Linked DNA regions of Homo sapiens. The protein of the gene in region 1 interacts with the protein of each later gene in a pairwise test. Each region holds a gene or a part of one and is shown on either strand. Other genes may lie near its edges.

Region 1 (7,739 bases):
AGTACAGGAGGGGGGAAAGGAAGAAATGCTCAAGAAACCCCAAAGCGAGGCAAAAATACAAAGGATGCCAGATAGCCTCCCCCATCCCTACTCCAGGCGAGTACCCACCGTGGCATGATGCAGAAAGGTCTCCTGCATCAGATCTGCCATCCTACTTGTAGCCCACAGTTCCCATCTTCTTGTGAAGAAAATCGACGCTGCTGCGGCTCCCCAGCCCCACTGGCTTCTGCAGCGTGAGGCTGAGATGCATTGGGCTCTCAATGCCAGTGCCTCGCGGCGCCTGGGCTAGAGCTTTGTGGCCATGAGACTAGAGCCACCCCAGAAAAAGGAACAAATACACACACCATTCGATAGCGCCTAAACCCATCTTTCTTTGTTGTTCATCTTCTAGCTGCGGCTTTATTTGTGGAAGAGGGAAGTGAGGAAGGGAATGGGGGGGCGGGGAGGAGGAATCTCCAGGACCTTATCTACAATCTCAACAGTCGCGGCAACGATCTCTGGGAGTGATCGAGGCATTCGGGCTGCCCCGTGCCTCCCGGGCAGCGATCTAACGATAAAACCTGACAGTGTCCTGGGGAAAACCCCACATCCACCGCTAGCGCTACATTCGGGCTTTATGCCAATAAGGAGACACTGTAGACTATCGATCAGACTCGTCTGCTCTCAGAGCGTGCGGCCGGGCTTCCAGCCTGGCCTTTAGGCGCGGTGGCGGCGGTGGGACACGCGCCAGGCGCCCAGAGAAGGACATGGGACAATGGCCCAGCCCGAGGACGCCAGACGCCGCCGCCCGACCCGGGGAAGGAAGCTCCTGCAGCCGGTCCGGGAACCCGAGGCGGGGAGGGAGGCCAGCTCTGGAGGTGCGCTGCCGCTTTAAAATAAAGGACCACAAAGACTGTACAGTGGGGAAAACGCGCCTGGCTAATGCGAGTGGGGACGACTTGGGGAGGGGGTTGAGGAAGGTAGGGGGCACACGAGCCAACGGCGGCTCACGGCTCCCCCTCTCTCCCGCCTCTCTCCTTCCTCCCTCCCCGCCGGGCTGCTCCGGCAGACAAATAACAGAGGAAGGCGAGTCACTCACCGTGGTCTTGACAGGCACGTAGAGCACTTGCTTGGCGCCGCCGCCTCCCCCGCGGACCTCGTCCGGCTGGCCCAGCTGGAAGCCCTTCGATTTGACCCAGAATTTAAATTTGGCGTTGTCCGTGGAGCTCGACTCGGAGCCATTGAGGAGCTGGACGATCCGTTCGTATTTTTTACGGGTCACCGTCTTGGTCTTGCCTGAGTCCCCGTAAGTCCTGAGGCACCAGTCCTGGAACTGGCGGTACATGTCGCGCTCGCTCTCCATGTTCCCCGCGCTCGGCCGCTGGCCGGATGCTCCCAGCGCACTTCGCACCTGTTCACCCTAGGCTCATGAAAAATGCAGCCCCGGCCACGTTGCAGGGATGCGAGGTCCCGGCCGCAGCGGGAGCCTGCTTTGGGTGGGGGAAGGGATGGGAAGAGGGGAGGAGGGTCCGGTTGGGCACCAGCAATCAATGCCCCGTGCTACCAAGTCTGGTCCATTCGTAATTGCAACGGCTGTCTCGGACGTTTTTCCTGTTCCCTTAGCGGTCGGTCTCTTTAATATTTTGTGACCAGGACCATCCCAACACCATTCTGGCCCAGAGGAGCTGGGTTTTCAATAATTAAAATCCCATTCCTTGGTTTATTAAAAATCCCAATATTGAATTGGGGTGGTCCCTAGACGCCTCGCCCCCGGGCTGCGTCCGGGGCTGGGCAGGTGGAGCGCAGCGCCGCCTCCCCGCGCGCGCCCCAGAAGCTTCCCCAGCCACTGGCCCCGTGGTCCAGGAGTGAGGGCTGCGCCTCTCCCGAAAGCAGCCGCCCGCCCAGCGCCTTTGAGCCCCGAAGGGCACACGGGTCCCGGATCTCTCCTTCCTCCTGGGTCCTGCTTTGACCTTCCCCACGACGGGTGTTAAGGGACTAGAAAGAGAAAGTTCTTACCTGTCATGTTTTTAAACCTATCAAATTCTGTTTTACAGAATTTTTTATCAAGATATTTTTTAAAACGGTTTAAAATGTCATTTCTTCAGATGCATTTTGAATAAATTCCAGCCCTGTATGTAGATTCTACGAGTTAAGTCCCAGAAATTAGCAAAGCATTGATGGAGATTTGGCCATAGTTCTACAGGATAGATTGTAGTGCCCCAAACAGATATCCGTTCCAGGGGGATGTGGGTAACCGAAGGCAGGCCGCTGGCGGCGGGTATCCCGAATAATGATGGGACCCCCAGACAGGACTCCTCTGGTTTCTGCTGAACAAGACATAGAAGTAAGTTTAGGATACAGATGCTTGAAAACCTTTGCACGAAATTAAAATATATACAGAAAGATCATTTTCCCCTTGCTTGGTCACAGTTTGCAGTTCACACGGGAGGTTTCAGTTGTCTATTTTCCCCCTGCCACGTCATGGACACCCCCTCCACTGCTCTGAGTAGCCAAATATGAGTTCCTCTGGACTATTTTTCCAAGCAGATGAAGTCAGCAGTTGCTCCATTCAGGACTTCCATCCATTTGTTTCCAGAGCTGGAAATAGGGGAGTTCCCATCCTCCTCGCGCGGCGGCTGCGGCCGCTCCTCTTTATTCTACTCTCACCCGAGGCCCGCGCCCGTCCCGGGGAGCGGCTCTGCCAGGAAAACGGCCCGACCAGTGCCCGGCGCCTGGGCTGCGTCCGAGCCCACCTTCTTCCCTCGTCGTCGTCTCCCAGACTAAATCCCGGAAAGGGAAAGCGGGATGTTTGCGCCCACCGCGCTGTAGCTGGTCCTGACACTTGCAAAATGGTCAGTGGCTCCTGCTCGGCCAGGCTGAGTGTGTGCGTGTGTGTGAGCAAGGGAGCGAGGGTGTGCGGTGTGCAGGGGGTGCGCTGTGTGTGCGCGCGTCTCCGGGAAGGTCTCGCGGCGGCTGGAGCCGGGACTGACAGCCCGGGCGGAGCGCAGGCAGCTCCACACGCTAAACCTCTCGCCTCTCCCCTCACCCCCACCCCTCCCACTCCCCTCTCCTTCCCCCACCCTCCCCGGCCCCTTCCAAGCTCTCTGATTGGCCAATGGGACAAAAGTTTCTGTGGAGACGGCTGGGCGCTGACGTCACGGGCAGAATTGTCCCATTTAGGGATCCCGGGGGCAGTGCGCATGCTGCAGGCTGCAGGTTAGAGGCAGAAGGAGGTAGCAGCGGGCCCGGCGGCAGCCAGGTGGCAGAAAGGAGCACGCAGCATCCAGGTGGGGGGACGACTCCAGCAGGGTTTCCATGGAGATTCCTCTGGGTCTAGCCTAAAAACAGCAGATCAGCTGACACCATTAGCTCAGGACCTAATTACTGCTTATTGGAGCAACAAATGAGGGAAAGGGCCAGCTGCAAAGGAAGAGTTTTTATCCCCCCACCCCATTCCCCCATCTCCTTTCTCCCCCTCTCTCCATCCCTCTTGAGTCCCGGGTGAATTCTCATTAACTTGCAAGATTCCTGCAACAACAGCTCCCCTTCTCCAGAGGCCACCCCGACTGCTTTTATTCTTTTATTTCCTTCTTTTGTATTAAAAAGAAATGCTAAAATAAATCAGTTGTTGAGTCCTTGAATTTTTGTTCAATACGTATTAGACCATAGAGCTCAGAGAAGACACTGTCCAATGAAGTCACAAGTGAATCTAATACAAGGGACTCAGGGGAAAAATATCACTTTCAATTTATTGAGGTGAATCTTTAGATATTTCACATTAAAAAAATCTTAATATCTTAAATACATAAATATTTGAAACACGCAATTGGACAGAAGATATCCTGAACCACCCTTCTAGTGGGGTATACTTCACAGGAGCAACTCTGTTAAGTTTCCCTTTGTGGCATCAGAGCTCAATTTAGTTAGATATTGGTCATGTGTTTCCTGGAAGTTTCTGGAAAGATAATTGGTCCTGGGGTAGTCATTCAAGAATAAGCTGGTTCTATAGAATTCACTTTCTCATATGGTTATAGTTCACAATTATAGAACTATTTTATGCAGCTTTTCATCTAAAAAGGCATCCCATCCCCTCTAAGCTTTATTTATGTACTTTCAGCCTCCAAAAACCTTCCTTAATCATTCAACTTAATATTAACTTTCTTCTATAATCATCTGTATTGTGTCTTTCAAACATTTTTTAGCCCTGTCTTGTAGTAAGCCATACACTTTACATTGACATGTAGTGCATACATACATTTGTTCTGCAAAAATTTTATGAAAACATCTATTTTATTACCTGCAATATACACTGATATTTGCCTTTTTCTCTCCTGTTGATTTTGTTATTATTATTTGGTAAAGTATAGTCCCAACCAAAAAAATTTATTTTATGACCCAGCAAAGAATGACTGGCAACCTACAATTTGAAAAATATTGTTTTAGATCATAATGACTACACTGCTCCTTTTACCTTATTTATATTTTCATATGAGTATGTTTTGTTGGTCAAATAAAATCTTAATTGGAAAACCCTTGAAAGTTTATGTCTTTTTTCTTGTTTTGTGCAATGAACAATGTGCACAGTAAGTGCTTAATAAATTGAGTTAATAAATTAATGAAAGAAGGAGAACAAGAGTAAGGGAAGGAAGGAAGAAGGTAGGCATAATCTTTGTCCATTCTTGTTGGCTTTTGCTGGGTAGTGTTTGGTTGAAGTTGGTCCCCCGTCTTAAGGAAATGACAGGGCTTTACCACACACACATGTGTTCATTGTATTTATAACTATACTTGACACCCTAATGCATAGCAACTAGAACACCCTAGACATACAGAACTCCCAGAAGATAAATATGTCATCAACCCCCACTTGTATTCACTAGATTTGATATACAAGCACAAAAACCCCACAAAATGAAATAGATTATATGAAATACATTCTTTTTAAGAAGAAAAGGTAAATGATTAACTACTGAAAGACTGTTTGCATTGGAGGAAAGGAATACAGGGTTCAAAGATTTCAAGGGTCCTAAGTCTCAGAGCCCTGCAGATTCTCTTGTTTTCAGTGGAACCCAAAGTGTAATATGCTCTGTACTTGCACCCATTATTAGTTGTGCTGGCTGAGCCAACACCTTCAACCATATCTTGTCCACCTAGGAAGGTAGGCACCTAACAAAAATCTAAAATCTGCTTCAGCAACTTACTCTGGACTAATTTTCCTTCTTTGAACTTCTCTAGAGTCAGGTCTGACCAGCCCCATCTCAGGGTCATCCTGAGCTGCTTCCTCAGCTATATGGTTCATGTGAACAGGCTGCCTGGGATTTAACCTGGTATGTTCCCAGGACACTTTCCTCAGAATTGCCTGGCTACAAAGCATATCTCTCCGAAATGTTTTTCTTCACCCCTTCTGAATGCCAATCCCCAATCTGGGCCCAGGGGTCCTGTCTGCCTGGCAGGCAGAGGAAGAAAAGAGAGGAAGAGGAAGGCAAAAAGGTATGTGAAACTTATATTTTAATTTAAAATAATCCAAAACGTGGGCTATCATCAATATGATTTTTGTTATAGAAGTAAAATTTCTTCCAACTTCATGGTCAGTTTGTAAATGACATTTTAAAAATCCAGAAAATCTTGCACTTTATTATCAATCACAAATATTTACACAACACTATGTGTTCATCAGCAAAATGTTAGAGTACAAACAACATAGAATCTGTAATCAGAAAATCCATGTTCAAAGAATAAACAAGCTTTCATTCCTTCAAATAATTGTGGTTTTTATTAAACAAATATTAACCAAGCTTCAGTTACTCTCACAGGTTCTAGGGTTAACGTCCTCAGCAAGACAGATGTATATGCATGGTTCCCATCTCATGGAACATAAATTCTTCTAAGGACAGCAGACAACAAAGCAAGAAATAAATAATTAGAGCTTTATGTAAGTGCTGGGAGGGGGAAAAATAGCAGCATAAGAGAAAACAGTGACAAGGTAGAGAGACTTGATGAGCTTAGGGAAGATCTTTCTGAGTAGGTAACATTTATCATGAGACCTGAAGATTCAAAGGAGTCAATTATGTGAAGCCAGGAAGGTGAACTATAGGCAAAGCGCAAAGGTCCTAACGTAAAAGAACTCTTGGCATGTTTGAGGAATAGAAAGAAGGCCAAGGCAACTGGAGCTTGAAAGAGAAAGGTAGAACGTGAGATCTGAGTAGACTTCTGCAGCCAGATCTTGTAGGGCATTGCTTACATTTTATTGATAAGTGCTTATATTTTATTGGTCCAGTGGAAAACCAGTAAGATATCTCAGGCAGGAGAATTATATGATATGATATGCATTTTTATTAGTGTCACTGGCCACTTTGAGGAGAAAGGATTGGAAAGGGACAAGCATGAAAGCAGGAAGACCAGCTAGAAAAAATGGTGATAGTTGAAGTAGTAGCTTAGATGAACTATTACGGCGATAGATTAGAGTATTAACAGAGGAGGTAGAGGGAGAGAAGTGATGGGTTGAAGATACAGTTTAAAGAAAGAATAGAGCTTCCTGAATGTGTATCTCCTCCACCCCCCTGCCCCCACCCCACAATCCATATGTTGAAATCCTAACCCCCAAGGTGATGGTATTAGGAAGTGGCACCTTTGGGAGCTGATTAGGTAATGAAAGGAGAGCTGGTCATGAATGGAATTGGTGCCTTCATGAAAGAGGCCTCACAGAGCTCCTCTGCCACTTCCTCCATGTGAGGACGCTGAAAAGATGGCCATCTATGAAGAGGAGTCTCACTAGACATCACATCTGCCAGCATCTTAATCTTGGACTTTCCAGCCTCCAGACCTGTGAGAAATAAATTCCTGTTGTTTATAAGCCACCCAGCCTATGGTAGTTTGTTATAGCAGCCCTAGTGAACTAATACACTGATGGACTGCATGTATCAGATGAGAGAAACGATTGAATCAAAGACGACTACATGGTTTCTGGCTTTAGTAGTGAGGCTAGTGAAGCCATTGACTTACAGAGAAATGTTTGGGGGAGGAACAGATTGGGAGTTGGAGGCTGAGGGAGGAGCAGAAGCAAGTTGGGGTGGAGAGGCAGGAAGAAAGAATTTAATTTCAGAGAAGTTAAATTTGAAATACCAGGAGAGTTGTTCATGTAGGAATTGAATATAGAAGCTTGAACTACAGAGAAAAGTCTGGATTGGAGATATAAATACAGGGAATTTAAAGCCATAGGAATGAATGACATCACCTTTGTCCACATTTCCTACAAAAAGGGAAAGCCCCCATCTTTTGATATTGAGTTTGTATATACTAATACCTTATGACTAAAATAGAATGTCATGTACTGAGCAGCAGAAGTTGGCTTCTATTGATATAATACTGGTATTGGGAAAAACCTGAGAAAAATAGCAAAGCAGTTTGGATGAATCCTTGACTAGACCTAAACTGTTAGTAATTTCCAAATTTACATGGACTTAAAATCATTTAAAACTTAAAAGTGAAGCTGTGAAAGCTTTGGTTAGACCTATTCTGGATTAGATCAGGACCTGGAGGCACGCTAAAATAGGAATCAAATTTTAGGATGTCCTATGATCACATTTCCCATTGAAGGGGTTGACTAGAGACTTGTCTACTGAGTTAAGTTCATAAAAGAATTTGAGCCTTTTAGCTAGATTAGAGATTATGGAGCATGGTACTTGCTACTTTGAAAGCTGAGGTTCTGAACGTTATTATGCATTCAGAGGGTTAAAAGTCTATTAATAATCCCGTCAAGGAAA
Region 2 (7,857 bases), on another chromosome or scaffold:
TTCCTATCTTTTCTTTTTTTAGTGAATATAAACAAATGCTTATATCTAATCTAATTTCCTTTTCTTTTTTAGACGAACTATATGTTACACTGTTCTATACTTTCCATTTTTTATATATTCCAGAGTTAATGTCATTCCGTAGAGAGCTTCGTTTTTTTTTTTTTCTGCTGTGTGTGTATGGGCTGCATAAAACTTTATGATGTGACTGTGGTGATTTGAGCTGCTACCTTTATCAAATACTAAGCATCTATGTGGATGTTAATTTCTTTTTTTTTTGAGATGAAGTCTCACTCTGTCACCAGGCTGTAGCGCAGTGGCACAATCTCAGCTCACTGCAACCTCTGCCTCCCAGGTTCAAGCGATTCTCCTGCCTCAGCCTCCCGAGTAGCTGGGACTACAGGCGCGTGCCACCACACCCAGCTAATTTTTGTATTTTTAGTAGAGACGGGGTTTCATCATGTTGGCCAGGATGGTCTCGATCTCTTCACCTCATGATTCACCCGCCTTGGCCTCCCAAAGTGCTGGGATTACAGGTGTGAGCCACCGTGCCTGGCCGGGATGTTAATTTCTTTCTTTCTTTCTTTTTTTGAGACGGAGTTTTGCTCCTGTTGCCCAGGCTGGAGTGCAGTGGCTTAATCTCGGCTCACTGCAACCTCCGCCTCCCAGGTTCAAGCAATTCTCCTGCCTCAGCCTCCTGAGTAGCTGGGATGACAGGCGCATGCCACCATGCCCAGCTTATTTTTTGTATTTTTAGTAGAGATGGGGTTTCATCATGTTGGCCAGGCTGGTCTCGAACTCCTGACCTCAGGTGATCCACCCACCTCGGCCACCCAAAGGGCTGGGCGTGAGCCACCGCGCCCGGCCATGGATGTTTATTTCTCCATTTCCCATCCTCCTCCCTTTGTCTGTCTCTCTAACCACACACAAATAGCACACTGTTTTAAGTATAGAGGCTTTATCATGTACCTCATATAACTTCATGTAACTTCAATTCTACTTTCTGTCTCTATGAATACACCTATTCTAGGCACCTCATATAAGTGGATTCATACAATATTTGTCCTTTTGGTCTGGCTTATCTCACTCCGCATAGTGTTGAAAAAGAAAATAAATGGCTTTTATCTGAGGAATGCAAGCCTTCTTTATGTGATCAAGCCCAGAGAGGGGTTGGGATGACACAGCTGTTGTGGTGGCTCATGCCTGTAATCCCAGCACTTTGGGAGGCCTCGGTGGGAGGATTACTTGAGGCCCGGAGTTTGAAACTAGACTGGGCAACATAACTAAACCCTCTCTCTATAAATTTTTTTTTCAATTAGCCAGGTGTGGTGGTGTACACCAATAGTCCCAGCTACTCAGAAGGCCTAGGCGGAAGGATGCTTAAGTCCAGGAGTATGAGGCTGCAGTGAGCTGTGATCATACCTCTGCATTCCAGCCTGGGAGACAGAGCAAGACCTTGTCTCTAAAAAAAAAAAAAAAAAAAAAAAATGCTGGGTGCAGTGGCTCACACCTGTAATCCCAGTACTTCGGGAGGCCAAGGCAGGCAGATCACTTGAGGTCAGGAGTTCAAGACCAGCCTAGCCAACATGATGAAACCCTGTCTCTACTTAAAAAAAAAAAAAAAAAAAAAAAAAAAAAGGAAAGAAAAATTAGCCGGGCATGGTGGTGGGTGCCTGTAATCTCAGCTACTAGGGAGGCTGAGGCAGGAGAATCACTTGAACCCAGGAGGCAGACGTTGCAGTGAGCCGAGATCCCACCACTGCACTCCAGCTTGGGCAACAGAGGGAGACCCCATCTCAAAATAAATAAATAAAAATTAAAAAAATAAATTAAAAATTAAAAAAAAGAAATGAGTTTTTTCTGCTCTAAAATCAAAAGTTTGCAAGCTGCATTCCTTTCTGGAGGCTCTGGAGAATTTGTTTTTTTTCATTTTCCAAGTTGGAGAAGCTGCCTGCATTCCTCAGCTCATGGGCTCCTTTCATCTTTACACCCAATAATGGCTGGTCGTGTGTTTCTCACAGCACACAATTCCAACACTGACTTTATGCCTTCTTCCTCATTTCAGACCCCATGTGATTACATTGGGTCTAACTGGACAATCCAGTATAATTCCCCTATGTTAAGGTCAGCCGATTAGCAACTTTAATTCTACCTGTTAATTTAATTCCACTTGCCATGTAACATAGCATATTCACAAGTCCCAGGAACTAGCATGTGGGTATTTTGGGGGGAACATTATCCTGCCTACTTTAGATGTTGAGGTCATTCAAGAGGAAAATGATAGTTTTGTTAACATGTGATGTTAGAACAACTGAATTTCCATCTGGAAAATAATAACTTTGAACATTACCTCACATACACAAAAACTAACTTCAAGTGGATGATAGACCAAAAATAAAAACTAAAACTATACAACCTTTAGAATAAAACATAGGAGAAATTCTTCACAACACTAGAGGAGTCAAAGATTGTTAGAAAGACCAGAAAGCATGAAGCACATTTTAAAGATGAGAAATTGGATTTCATCAGAAGTAAAAACTGCTTTTTGAAAGACATCATGAAGAAACTGAGGGCTGGGCACAGTGACTCACACCTGTAATAACACAGTGAGACCCCATCTCCACAAAACACAAGAAAATTAGTTGGGGGTGGTGGTGCACACCTGCAGTCCCAGCTACTCAGGAGGATCGACTAAACCCAGGAGGTCAAGGCTGTGGTGAGCTATGTTAACACCACTGCACTCCAGACTAGGCAACAGAGCAAGACCCTGTCTCAAAAAAAAAAAAAAAAAAAAACTGAGAAGGTAAGCCCCAGGCAGGGAGAGAATATTTGCAATTTGCAATATGTATATTTGGCAAAGGACTTTTACCCAAACATATAAAGAATTGTTACAACTCAATAATAACCAATTTTAAAATAAGAAAATTTTATTTATTTATTTATTTATTATTATTTTTTGAGATGCAGTTTTGCTCTTGTTGCCCTAGCTGGAGTGCAACAGTGTGATCTCAGCTCACAGCAACCTCTGCCTCCCGGGTTCAAGTGATTCTCCTGCAGGGATTACAGGCATGCACCGCCACGCCTGGCCAATTTCGTATTTTTAGTAGAGACGGTGTTTCTCCACGTTGGTCAGGGTGGTCTCGAACTCCCAACCTCAGGTGATCTGCCCGCCTCAGCCTCCCAAAGTGCTAGGATTACAGGCGTGAGCCACTGCGCCCAGCCGAATATTTTCAATAGATGTCACAAAAGAAGATAAAAGAATGGCAAATAAGTATATGAAAGTATGCTAAGTTCATTGACATCAGGAAATGCAAATTAAAAACATAATTTGATACTACTGCTCATTCCTTAGAATAGTCAATAGATGCCTGATGTGGGGTTTGGGAGGTGGGGATTGACTTAACAATGTGGGGGGCAGAGGGCGGTGAATAAAAATATTCTATATCCGCCGGGCGCGGTGGCTCACGCTTGTAATCTCAGCACTTTGGGAGGCCGAGGCGAGCGGATCACGAAGTCAGAAGTTCGAGGTCGGGAGTTCGAGACCAGCCTGTGAGCTCGAACCCTGTCTCTACTAAAAATACAAAAATTAGCCAGGCATGGTGGCGGGCACCTGTAATACCAGCTACTCGGAAGGCTGAGGCAGGAGAATCGCTTGAACCCGGGAGGCGGAACTTGCAGTGAGCCGAGATCTCGCCACTGCAGTCCAGCCTGGGTGACAGCTAGACTCCAACTCAAAAAAAAAAAAAAAAAAATTCTATATCCAGTAACACTAAGGATAAATGCTTGAGGGGATAGACACCCTATTTTACATGATATGATTCTTACGCATTGCATGCCTGTATCAAAACATCTCATGTACCCCATATACAACTACTATGTACCCACAAAAATTTAACTAAAATGCTTAAAAATTTTTTAATTTTAAAAAATATTCTATATCCTGATTACGATGGTGGTGACAAGGGTTTAGACATGCGTTGAAGCTTACCGAACAGTTCACTTAAAATGAGTGCATTTTATTGTATCTAAATTATTCTTCAGTAAAGTTGATTTTTAAAAAACATGCACACAAATATAATTTACAAACTATAACATTAGCTCGTTTATGGTGTACCATTCAGTCACTTTTAGTGTATTCAGAGTTGTGCAAACATCATTATCTAATTCAAGAAGCTTTGCATTACCCCAAAAATGAACCCTTTAGCTATTACCAATCACTCACAGTTCCCCCTAATCCTGCTAGTCCTAAAAAACTCTAACTTACTCCTTTTCCGTAGATTTGACTATTTTAAATATTTCCTATAAATGCAGTCATACAGTATGTGGCTTATCCACGGATGAAGGCAAAAATGACGATTTAGTCAGTCTAGCATTCTCAGAGAGCGTTATAACGCCTAGTACAGTCCGGGGTCCTGGGTGCGTTCTGCACTGAGTCGGCTTGGGGCAGGAAGTCATTTAAGCGACCTCCTTCCACTTGCCCCAGCGCCTCACCCCTTCCTGCTCTAGACTACAGTTCCCAAAAATCCTTGCGGCTCTAGTCAACATCTGGCCCGAAGCTGGCGACCTTTTCCTGTTTCTCAGGGAACTCCCTGGGGTTGGCCGGTACCATGGAGGAAGATTGTCTTCAGCGTGCAGGGCCAGCGTCCTACGGCAGTTTCACTCTGAGCCTGTGTCTGGATCACGGAGACGCGGGGTAGCGGTTCGGAGTGCGGAGCAGGGATGTCCCCGAGCTGTGCAGCTGCAAGAACCCGAAAAAACAGGCGCCATCTTCTCGGCGCGGTCCTACTCCGGACTGTATTTCCCAGAGGCCCCCGCGAGTCCAGGGCAGCCCCTTCATTTGCCTGCTGGACCCTCCGCCTCAAGGGTAGGGGAAGTGCGCGGTGAGCGGCCTGGGTCTTGCAGGCTCGGCTGGGGCCCGCAGGTACGTGCATGGGAGTTTGAAGGGACTGACCAGGCTGGTCTGGAGTGTTGGGCATGTATGAGTGTGTCGGGCATGTATGAGTTGGTCGGGCTGATAGAGGGGGTGGTGGGGAGGCGGGCGCGAGGCGTGGGCTTCCGTGTGTGAGTGTGACCTTATGTGACTGTGCCTCTCTGTGTGCGCGGGTGTGATTGTATATCCTCGTTGTAGTTGTGTAATTGTAACAATGTAAGGCTGTATGTGTAGGTATGACTGTGTCCCGTGTTGGGACTGTGATTGTGTGTGGCTGTGTAACTTTGCGTGACATTTGTGGAGGGTGTTTGTGTGGAGAGAATCTGATGAGGCTGTGACTGTGTGTTAGTCTGAGGGGTGTGTGTAATTGTGTTTGTATGACTGTTAGCAGCACTTAAGTGTACTGGATGCCTTACTGAGTAAATCTACTACCCAGAAATAACCCAGTAACGTGAGAATGTGAGAGTGTGACCATGTAACTTTATGTAGCACTGTGTCTGCGGTTGGAAAGTGCGTGTAATCGTGCCGGGGTGATATGTGTGTCCTAGTGGTCATTGTGTTATTTTGAATGTGTGATTGTGTGTAGTGCTCAATAGGGGTCCTGGGGAGGGGGGAACTGTAACTTTGTGTGGCTCAGTAGTGCGTGTGGTATTGTGACTATCTGTAGCACTCTGGTTCTGAATGGTGCTATGTTTGAGGGGTCTGTAAATATGCTAGTGTAACTTATCCTCAAGGTAGATGTGGGACAATGATTGTGTGACCATATATAGTGTTATTGTTTGGGTGAGGCGTGCCTGTGGAGGTCTATGTGGGTCCCCATGGTGGCTGGGTGACTGCAGCATTGGGTAGGGGGTGCTTGTGACTGTCTTTGTGACTCCAGCTCTCCCTGTGAGGTCAGGACAGATTCTCGAGAGGAGAGACCTCACCCCTCTGATACCAAGAATGCTCATGACAGCCTACACTTCTCTGTTTTTGTTTTGTTTTGTTTTAAGGCGGAGTTTCGCTGTTGTTGCCCAGGCTGGAGTGCAATGGCGCAATCTCGGCTCACCGCAACCTCCGCCTCCCCGGTTCAAGCAATTCTCCTGCCTCAGCCTTCCTAGTAGCTGGGATTACAGGCGTGTGTCACCACGCCCTGCTAATTTTGTATTTTCAGTAGAGACGGGGTTTCTCCGTGTTGGTCAGGCTGGTCTCGACCTCCCCACCTCAGGTGATCCGCCTGCCTTGGCCTCCTAAAGTGCTGGGATTACAGGCGTGAGCCACCACGCCGGGCCGCCTACACTTCTCTGACCTCCCCCATCCCTTCTTCTCTCCATAGATAGTAGCTGTAGATCCAAAATGACCTCTGATCTGCTCAGTCTGGGCCACAAGAAAGGCCTGGCATCTCATCATTCCTTTCTTCTTCAGCTCTGCTCTCGTCAAGAGAGTTACCCAGAGGAAGAATGGCTGTTGACCAAACCAAATACAAGGTGCATTGGGTTTCCTTTTTGCTTCTCTTCTCTGGATAGTCGTGGTTAACATAGAGTCAACAAGTGACCTGGTTCTTACAAGTTTCTATTCAAGAAAATGATGAGAAGCCTTGGAGTGGACTCAGAGATCCCAGTAGTCTGTTACTTCTTTCTACAAAATGTTCACTTATTAATTTAGAAAATAGAACAGTTTTCCCAGTGTACTAAAGTTTTGTTTTTTTAAACACACACACACTCTCCCCTCCTCTGTCTCACACACACCCACCCACACAATTCCAAAGAATTTAGAAAATAGGGAGTTACAAACAGCAAATCTACTACCCAGAAATAACCCAGTAATATTTTGATCTATTTCCTTCTAGTAAGTTTCCTATGCACATATACATTGTTTTCAAGATTGGAATCTTATGACATTTACCATTTCATATCTTGTATTTTCACTAAAAATTATGTATGGTTCTTATATTTGGTTTTCTTTTCTTTTCTTTTTTTTTCTTGAGACGGAGTCTCGCTCTGTTGCCCAGGCTGGAGTGCAGAGGCGCGTTCTCAGCGCACCCAGGCTGGAGTGCAATGGCTAGATCTCAGCTCACTGCAACCTCCCGCCTCCCGAGTTCAAGCAATTCTCCCGCTCCAGCCTCCTGAGTAGCTGTGATTACAGGCACCTGCCATCATGCCTGGCTAATTTTTATATTTTTGTAGAGATGGAGTTTCACTATGTTGGCCAGGCTGTTCTTGAACTCCTGACCTCAGGTGAGGCCTCCCAAAGTGCTGGGTTTACAGGTGTGAGCCACTGCTCCTGGCCTATATTTGTTTTTTTTTTTGTTGTTGTTTAATCCCTTTATATTACGTAATACAGAAAAATAGTTAAAATATAGATGTATAGTTTAAGAAGTAATTATAAAGAGACCCTCAGCATAACAAAAACTTGCTTCAGCAGTCCAGAAAAGCCCGCTAGTCCTTTCCCCAGAATAAACTTATCCTACCTCCCTCTTTAGGCAACACTTATCCTGACTTTGATAATCGTTATTTTCTTCTTGACTTTTTAAAAAAAGTTTTGTTTTGTTTTGTTTTTTACCACATATCTGCTTATCCCTAAACAATATAGTTTAGTTTTGCCTTTTTAACACTATATAAATTAAATTGTACTGTATGATGTTGTTTTGAGTCTTGCCTTTCTTATAAAATACTATATTTGTTAGCCTCACTCTCGCTGCTATACATAGCTGCAGTTCAGACGTTGGTTATTTCCTGTATGACAGGGCTGCTGTGAAAATGTTTTTACAAGTATACCAGCATATATGCATACCTTTCCAGGATATAAGTGTATGAAGGAATTGCTGGGCCATACAGTATGTTTTGCATCTTTAAATTTCCTAGATAATGCTGAACTGATCTACAATATAGTTTTATAAATTAAATTCCTACCGACAGCTTATAAACATTATAGTCATCTTGTATTCTAAC
Region 3 (6,940 bases), on another chromosome or scaffold:
AATGCTTTTCTTTTCACACTTATGTATAGAATAAGATTATAACAAATATCATTTATTATATGTCTGTGATATTTCAGGCACTGTTTTAAGTGTGTTAATCTATTTAATCCTCATAGCAATTCTATGGGGTTGGTACTATTGTTATTCCCATTTTTCAGAAGAGAAAAATTGTGCCATAAAAAAGTAAAGTTACCCACTGCATTTTAGCTAATAAATAGTGGAGCAAGGATTCAACTCAGTGGCTACAGAACCAAAAGCCTCAACTTCTACATTATATTGCCTATGTGTACAATAAATGATCGACAAAGGTTGAAAGGTAGTGTGAGTACACCGATACAGGTGTTTTTGTTTCCTTCTTTTTCTTGTTCTTACTTTCCAAATTGTCTAAAATTAATATGTATTAATTTTAAATCAGAAAAGGTAACAATTTATTAACGTACTGGTGAAAGCTCTGATCACAAAGTCATTGGCCCAAATGCAAACCCAAGTCGTTGGTGGAGGCAATGCTCCCCAGAACTTCTACAAAAAGAGAAGAAAAATCGGGGGGAGGCAACACCCTTCCTGCACTCTTACGTGTGGGCTCTCTTTCTCTCTCGCCCCTCTCTCTCGCCCCTCTCTCTCTCCCCTCTCTTTCGCCTCTCTCTTCCCCCTCTCTCTCCTCTCTCTTTCCTCTCTCCTCACTCTCACTCTCTCTGCTGCTCCAATTCAATTTAGACAACACTAACGGGATTGCCTGCAGTAAAAGGTGGCCCAAGGTCCACACTTAGTTGGTTCTGTCTCCAAATTGAAACATACAGGTTAGAAGCTCCTCCAAATATACATAAGGACAGTTAGGAATAGAGTTGGGAGGACTAGAAACAAATGCCTTGGTCCCAAAGGAAAGGCCTTTTCTGTGTGGGAGGACAACACTCTCGCCCTGGCCAGCTGAGCAATGCAGTTTCTCCCGCTCTAAGATTCAGCCCAGGCACTGAGGGAGGGCACTCTGTTCTTCAGCCCTTGTGAGGGCTGACATTAAAAGGCCGGAAATTCTAGGGACGAGGGCGAACCGAGGTTGGAAGGGAGCCAATCGGAGGGTCAAAGACTTCAGAATGAAAACAGCTTCGCCAAAATGTTAAAGGCACCTAAGCAGACCTGTCGGCTGGTTTTCCTTCTCTTACTTTTATCCCTGCGCTGGCATCGGGGCACATGAAACAGCTCTGTTCATTCCCTGTGCAGCGACCGATTTTAGGCCTCCTGAGAAGTGCCCACCCACTAGCTGCCGCTGGCTCAGTCGCAAAGAGCTGGGTTCGCAGTATTTCCCACCGCCACCCCTCCTCCCCGCCCTTCCATCTTTCCGTCTGCCCGGGCTGAGAGCCACGCAGGGCATCCACCCTGTCATTTAGCACCTCGGCTACGCAATGGTGGGTGGTTTCCCAAAGCGCGTGCCCTCGCAGCCACTCGCGCTCGCCTCGCCGCTTGCAGGGGCACAAGTCAATGAGGCTTTTCCCTCCGCGATCATGGTGAATCAGCAAAGCGCTGCAGAGCAGCGGCACCTCCACGAGCAGAAATTAAGATGCTGGGGGAACGGCACGAGTGGAGTGTGGCAGGGGAATTTCTAGCCCCTTCCAATGTGTCCCTCCCAGGGACGGCGATACTGGGGGAGGGGAGTCAGCTGGAAGCTGCTGGACTTAGGCGTCGCGGGGAGCCTCTGGAAACAGAGCAGTGTAGGGAATAACGAAGATGAGCACAGAAAGTGGACGAGAAATGGGTGGAAGGATCTAGGGAGCACAAGCAGAGCAGGGCAGGTGCGCCCCCGGGGTGGGCAGCGCAGCAGGAGCAGGTGTTGCTGAGGAAAGGTAGGAAGGAAGTCCGGTATGGGGGAAGGGAGGAGATCATCAAATAAGGAGGATTTCCCAAACCGCGACTTGCTGTTTCCAACGTGCAAGTTCCCAAGTTCAGTTTGAGAAGTGAAGGGCCGCTAGGTGTAGGGGAGTCTGGAATGGGAACGTTAGGGAAATGCCTCCCCGAGGCGCATTCTCCTACCCATTCTCCTCTTTCTTCCCCCCCCCCCACTCCCCTTCCTCTTCCTGTCCCTATTCGTCTTCCTTCAGCTTTGATTAATATGCATGTCTATGCTCCGTAGTGCGGGCCACCGCCTCCCGTTCGACCCCTGGCACTGGGAGACTGAGCTGTAGCGACCAAAGGCTTGGGATGGGGAGGCTGAGCGCTCAGAGCGCGGAGTCTGAGGACCCCTCGCCGCGCCCTGTATCCCACCCCCCTGGCTGGAGAGAGCGCCTCAGTGACCCAGACTCCGAGATCCCGCTCGGTCTGCGTTGCAGTGGACAGACCCAGGAGCTTGGAGCGCGAAATGAAACGCGCTAAATTGTACCTGTGCGTGGCCGTTCCCGCCGCCGCCGCAGGTCTATCCCGGGGCCGAAGCCGGCGCCCGCCTTCTCGGGGAATTCTCCGGAGGGGGAGTGCGAGGGGAACCACGGTGACTGCCTGCTAGCTCACGGCTGGCGCGCACACGCACACGCCCAACTTTGCCAAGCCGTCGGCGCCCCGCGGGCTCCCCCGCGCCCCCTGCGGCTCAACACGCTCGGAGACCTGTATCTCTCCTGCTCTGAGATAAGGTTCCCTCCACTCTCACACCTTCGCATGTAGGGGAGGAGAGGGCGGAGTGAGGCAGAGAAGGGGGTTAATGCTACTGACTCCCTGGCCAGCCTTTCTCAAACACTCTACGCCCGCAGGGGCGCCCGCGCCAGCCACGCCGCACCAGGTCCCCCAGACCTGCTGGTGACGACAGAGAGAGGAGGAGGAAGAGAAGGCAGGGCGAAGAACCGGGAGCCGGGGAGCCCCGGAGCTCGGGAGCCCGGGAGCCCAGGCGACGGACAGTTCCATCGACTGACCGTCATTATCAGCACTTTTATTACTAAAGGACTGGGTGGGAGGTTGGGGGGTGTGCAACAGAGCTGGCCAGCCCCAATCCACTCTGGAGCGACCCTAAATTAGAGCCACAGAGAAAGATTCTCCACGGATACCTTTTGAGTGGACGTGCTCCAGACACACACCCGGACCCCGTGGTCCCGCCGAAGCTGCAGTGTTGGGGGTATTTTAAACGGTTCTTATTTGGAAGGAGGCGTGATTTCCACGTTCGAGCGTCTTCGCTCCCCACCCCCTCTCGGCACCAGCCAGTGCGCGCCACCACCTGAGCCTGGCGAGAGCCGGGACGCACGCAGTCTTCAGCCTGCTCCTTTAAGCCTCTGGAGAGACTCGGCTCTGAGCGGGTCCGCCCGACACCCGCCCCCTCCCCCCACTCCTGAGAACTCTTTACTTTTTGTTTGGAAAATCGGGGCCATTTCTTTATTTATCTCTGGGTCTTCCCGGAGGAGGGCAGAGAAGGGGAGAGCGAGCTTGGCGGGCCGGACCGGGGGAGGGGAGCGAAGGGAGGGGAGGGGACTGGGTGTAGCCTGGAATTCTCCGTCCTCGTGTTCCTGGGCGGGCGCGCAGAGTCTCCTGGCGATAGCGCCGTCGCCGCTCCCCGCGCCACCCCGTCGTTGGCCTTGGGGGTCGGGTGAGTGGGGTCATGACGAGCCGCGGGGGCTGCCCCGGGCCCCGCCCGCGCTGAGAGGGGACGCGGCCGCGCGGCGCGGAGCCCCCCTGGCGGGGAGGCCGCGGGGGGTGGGGAGGGCGCACGCGGTAGGGCGGAGTGGGGGCGGCGCAGAGGCCGCCAAGCTGGGGGGCTCTCCGGGAGGGCGCGGCCGCGGGCAGGAGGGCGTGTCTCCGGCTCGAGGGGACCCTCCCGAGGCGCGGCGCGGGACTCCCCGATGGTGGTGCCGCGGCTCCGGGAGAGCTCAGGGTCTCGCCGCCGCCGCCGTCGCCGCCGCCGCGGGCGCCGCTGCCGCCGCCGCCGCCGCCGCCGCCGCCGCCGCCCGAACCCGCGCCGAGCGTGCGCCTCGCCCTCCTCCCGCGCCCGCTCTGCTCTAGGATGCTGCGGCAGGTTCTGCACAGGGGCTTGAGGACGTGTTTCTCCCGGCTCGGCCACTTCATTGCCAGTCACCCTGTCTTCTTCGCCTCGGCGCCGGTGCTCATCTCCATCCTGCTCGGCGCCAGCTTCAGCCGCTACCAGGTCGAGGAGAGCGTGGAGCACCTGCTGGCGCCCCAGCACAGCCTGGCCAAGATCGAGCGCAACCTCGTTAACAGCCTCTTCCCGGTCAACCGCTCCAAGCACCGTCTCTACTCGGACCTGCAGACCCCCGGGCGCTACGGCCGGGTCATCGTCACCTCCTTCCAGAAAGCCAACATGCTGGACCAGCATCACACCGACCTGATCTTAAAGGTGAGAGGGGACGGGTGCGGGCAGACTCCGCCAGCGCCGCGGCCGCGGTCGGGCTGGCTCTGCGCTGGGGTCCCGGCTGAGAGCGCCACCTCTCCTAGCCCAGGCAGCTGCCGCAGGGACTCTCCTGCACCGCGCGCCCCAGGGCGGCCGACTGGAGCCTCCCAGCCTCCTGGACAAGGAGCGTCGGGGTCCGGGTCCGGCCCTGCCCGCGTCGCCTCTACCGCCACCCCGCAGCTGCTGCAACAGTTGGGGCGGCGGCGGCCACAGTGCTGTGGTCGGTGCGCTTGTTTTGGTCGCAGTGGGCTTGGGGGTGGGGAGGCTTTGGGGTAACTGGGCCAGCAAGGAGCAGAACGAGAGAAGACATTCTGGAAAGTCCTACTACTTGAGAACAAAATACTATGCTTGGAGGGGATTCCGAGATACCCCTCCCTGTCCTCAGTTTTGTTTCTCCCTTTTTCTGGCCCCCCGGAGTGTTTGGGGAACGGTTGTTGGTGTGGGATGTTGGGAAAGGACAAAAGAATGTGAGGCGGGATGGTGATGAAGATGCCTCCCACCCACCCAGAAAGAAGTGTGGTCTCTGGCGAGGACAGGGGGCTGCCCTGCTGCTCTCTTCTCCGGAGCGAGGTAGCCATCTCTATCTTCTAGGGTATGAAATTATGTTTGTAATTCGCAGTTCCTTCGTCTTTCACAGTAGCTCCTCAAGAAATGCCAAAACTTTGGGAAAAGAGGGAACCGATCAATCCACTTTTATTTGGGTGCATCTGAGCATGGGGGTGAGGGGCAGAGCCCGAAGGGTGAGAACAGAAGCCAGGCTGTGTGACCCCGAGAAGAGCACAGGAAACCGAGCAGCTGGTTAGAGGGTGACACTCGCAGAAACCGGTTGTGCCATCAGCTTGAGGTGGGAATTTGATGTGGAAAGTGAGGTTAATGGTGGTAACTTTCAGGAACTTCCTAAGAAAAGCAGAGGAGTGAGGACTAGAGATGGAAAAGTGGAGACCTCGGGAGAGAAAAGTAAAAATAGGTGAGAATGTTCCATCTGAATCCCTGATGGGGACTGTGGGGCTTGTTTACTTAAGGTTCTCCTTTGGGGAGGGCAGACAAGAACCAGTCCCAGCTGGGACTCTGGTGCAGAGGGATGGAAGGTGATCGTTTTGTGTGAGTCTCTAGTCCAGATCTGGTACTAGAGGCTGGTTAGATTTCTAGTCTACTTATCCCAAGGGGAGTCTGCCGGGAAACCTGGGGAACTCTTTCCTCTTCTTTTCCTCTACAGGTAATAGTTTATCCCTAGAGACAAGCTAATTTTCATTATTTTCCTATGTCCGTTTGTTGACATGTTATCAATTAGCAATTAGTAATGAGGGGAATCTGACTAGGGGCTCAATGGAATTAGGATCTTCCCACATGGAGTGGCTCATGATATTTTTAATGGCACACATCACACATTTACTCATCACAGAACCTTAATAACATTAATCCCGAGATGTTTGTTTTTCTCATGATTAGACTTCCAGCATCAAAGTGGTTTTCTTTTTTCTCTCAATACTTTAGTGACTATATTTTGGGACACAGATAAATACTGCTCCAAAAGCTTTCCCACGAAAACACATAGTAGATTCATCATGGGCATAAGGAAACTGTAATTTAACCAGTTCTGACAGTTGGAAATGCCCCGTCTTTTGATTGATGATCTACTAAATGATATTTCTCTTTTTGTGTTTTTTCAAGGTGACGTTTCCATTGCCTTTCCCCCCCCACCCACAAACCATCACACCACTGTGACAGGCAGTCACCAGTTACAGTCACTCTCAAGGTTAATGAGACATCAACAAGCATTATCAGATCTCTTTTCAACTGGATTACTTCTTCCCTATTTGATTTTGATCAGTTCAGGACAGAAAACAGTGCTATAGGAGAAGGTTGAGACTGGAGAGACGGAGGCTTGGTTTGCCTCCATATCTAAAGGGCAACTTTAAAGGACAATGGTCAAAAATCAGTGGATTGTTTTAAGAACTGGGATGGTTTTTCATCTTCTAGGTGTCTGAGTAAAATCAAAACCAAGCCTAGCAGTGGTCCGAACTTATTTCTAGCTGATGACTCTCTGGTCAAATGAGTTCATACAGCTTATAAAAATCCAGACTTACGGAACCAAGGAAATAACTGTCTTCAATTTTAAATTATATGTTTAATTTTTTCTTTCTGCATCCAGCCCCTACTTTTGGTAGATATGGAGCCAGGGGACAGGAAGATGGACCTTCATTAGTCATGGTAATGTAAAGTGTGGGAGTGAGCACTTTTTTTTTTTTAATTTTTTTCATTTAGAGACATGATGACTTGTCCTTTAGGAAAGGTGTCAGGAGTGAAAGAATCACTGTTATTGTTGTTACTAGTGTTATTCTGATGCTTCGTTACTGGCATCAAGGATAGCATTGACAGTTAACACTACACAACACCCAACAGTCCCTGCCCCCTGCCGGTTTTATGGCGTCACATTTGAAATGAAGTGAAGTGGACAGAGCATGAGCAGGTCTGAGGCTTTTTCATACCCCAGTACAGAACTGAGGAGGTGACTTGTAGGGCTGTGTAGGGTGTTGCTTCAAGCATGAAGAGTAGACCCATTCTCTC

The links. Proteins that work in one complex are often made in the same cells at the same time.
Region 2: the proteins of NOL4 (region 1) and ZNF383 interact in binary tests that used the Homo sapiens proteins (3 or more experiments, as listed by UniProt).
Region 3: the proteins of NOL4 (region 1) and PTCHD1 interact in a two-hybrid assay, tested with the Homo sapiens proteins (one study listed by BioGRID and IntAct).

The regions. Positions count from the first base shown.
Region 1 is NC_000018.10:34,221,912-34,229,650, forward strand, and holds the start of NOL4 (nucleolar protein 4), read right to left. Parts: upstream 3,003-7,739; 5' UTR 1,343-3,002; coding exon 1,079-1,342; intron 560-1,078; exon of another isoform or gene 151-559; coding exon of another isoform or gene 109-150; intron 1-108.
Region 2 is NC_000019.10:37,213,357-37,221,213, forward strand, and holds the start of ZNF383 (zinc finger protein 383), read left to right. Parts: upstream 1-4,857; 5' UTR 4,858-4,918; exon of another isoform or gene 4,919-6,134; intron 6,135-6,242; exon of another isoform or gene 6,243-6,393; intron 6,394-7,857.
Region 3 is NC_000023.11:23,330,909-23,337,848, forward strand, and holds the start of PTCHD1 (patched domain-containing protein 1), read left to right. Parts: upstream 1-3,940; 5' UTR 3,941-3,967; coding exon 3,968-4,318; intron 4,319-6,940. UniProt on the Homo sapiens protein: Required for the development and function of the thalamic reticular nucleus (TRN), a part of the thalamus that is critical for thalamocortical transmission, generation of sleep rhythms, sensorimotor processing and attention. Can bind cholesterol in vitro.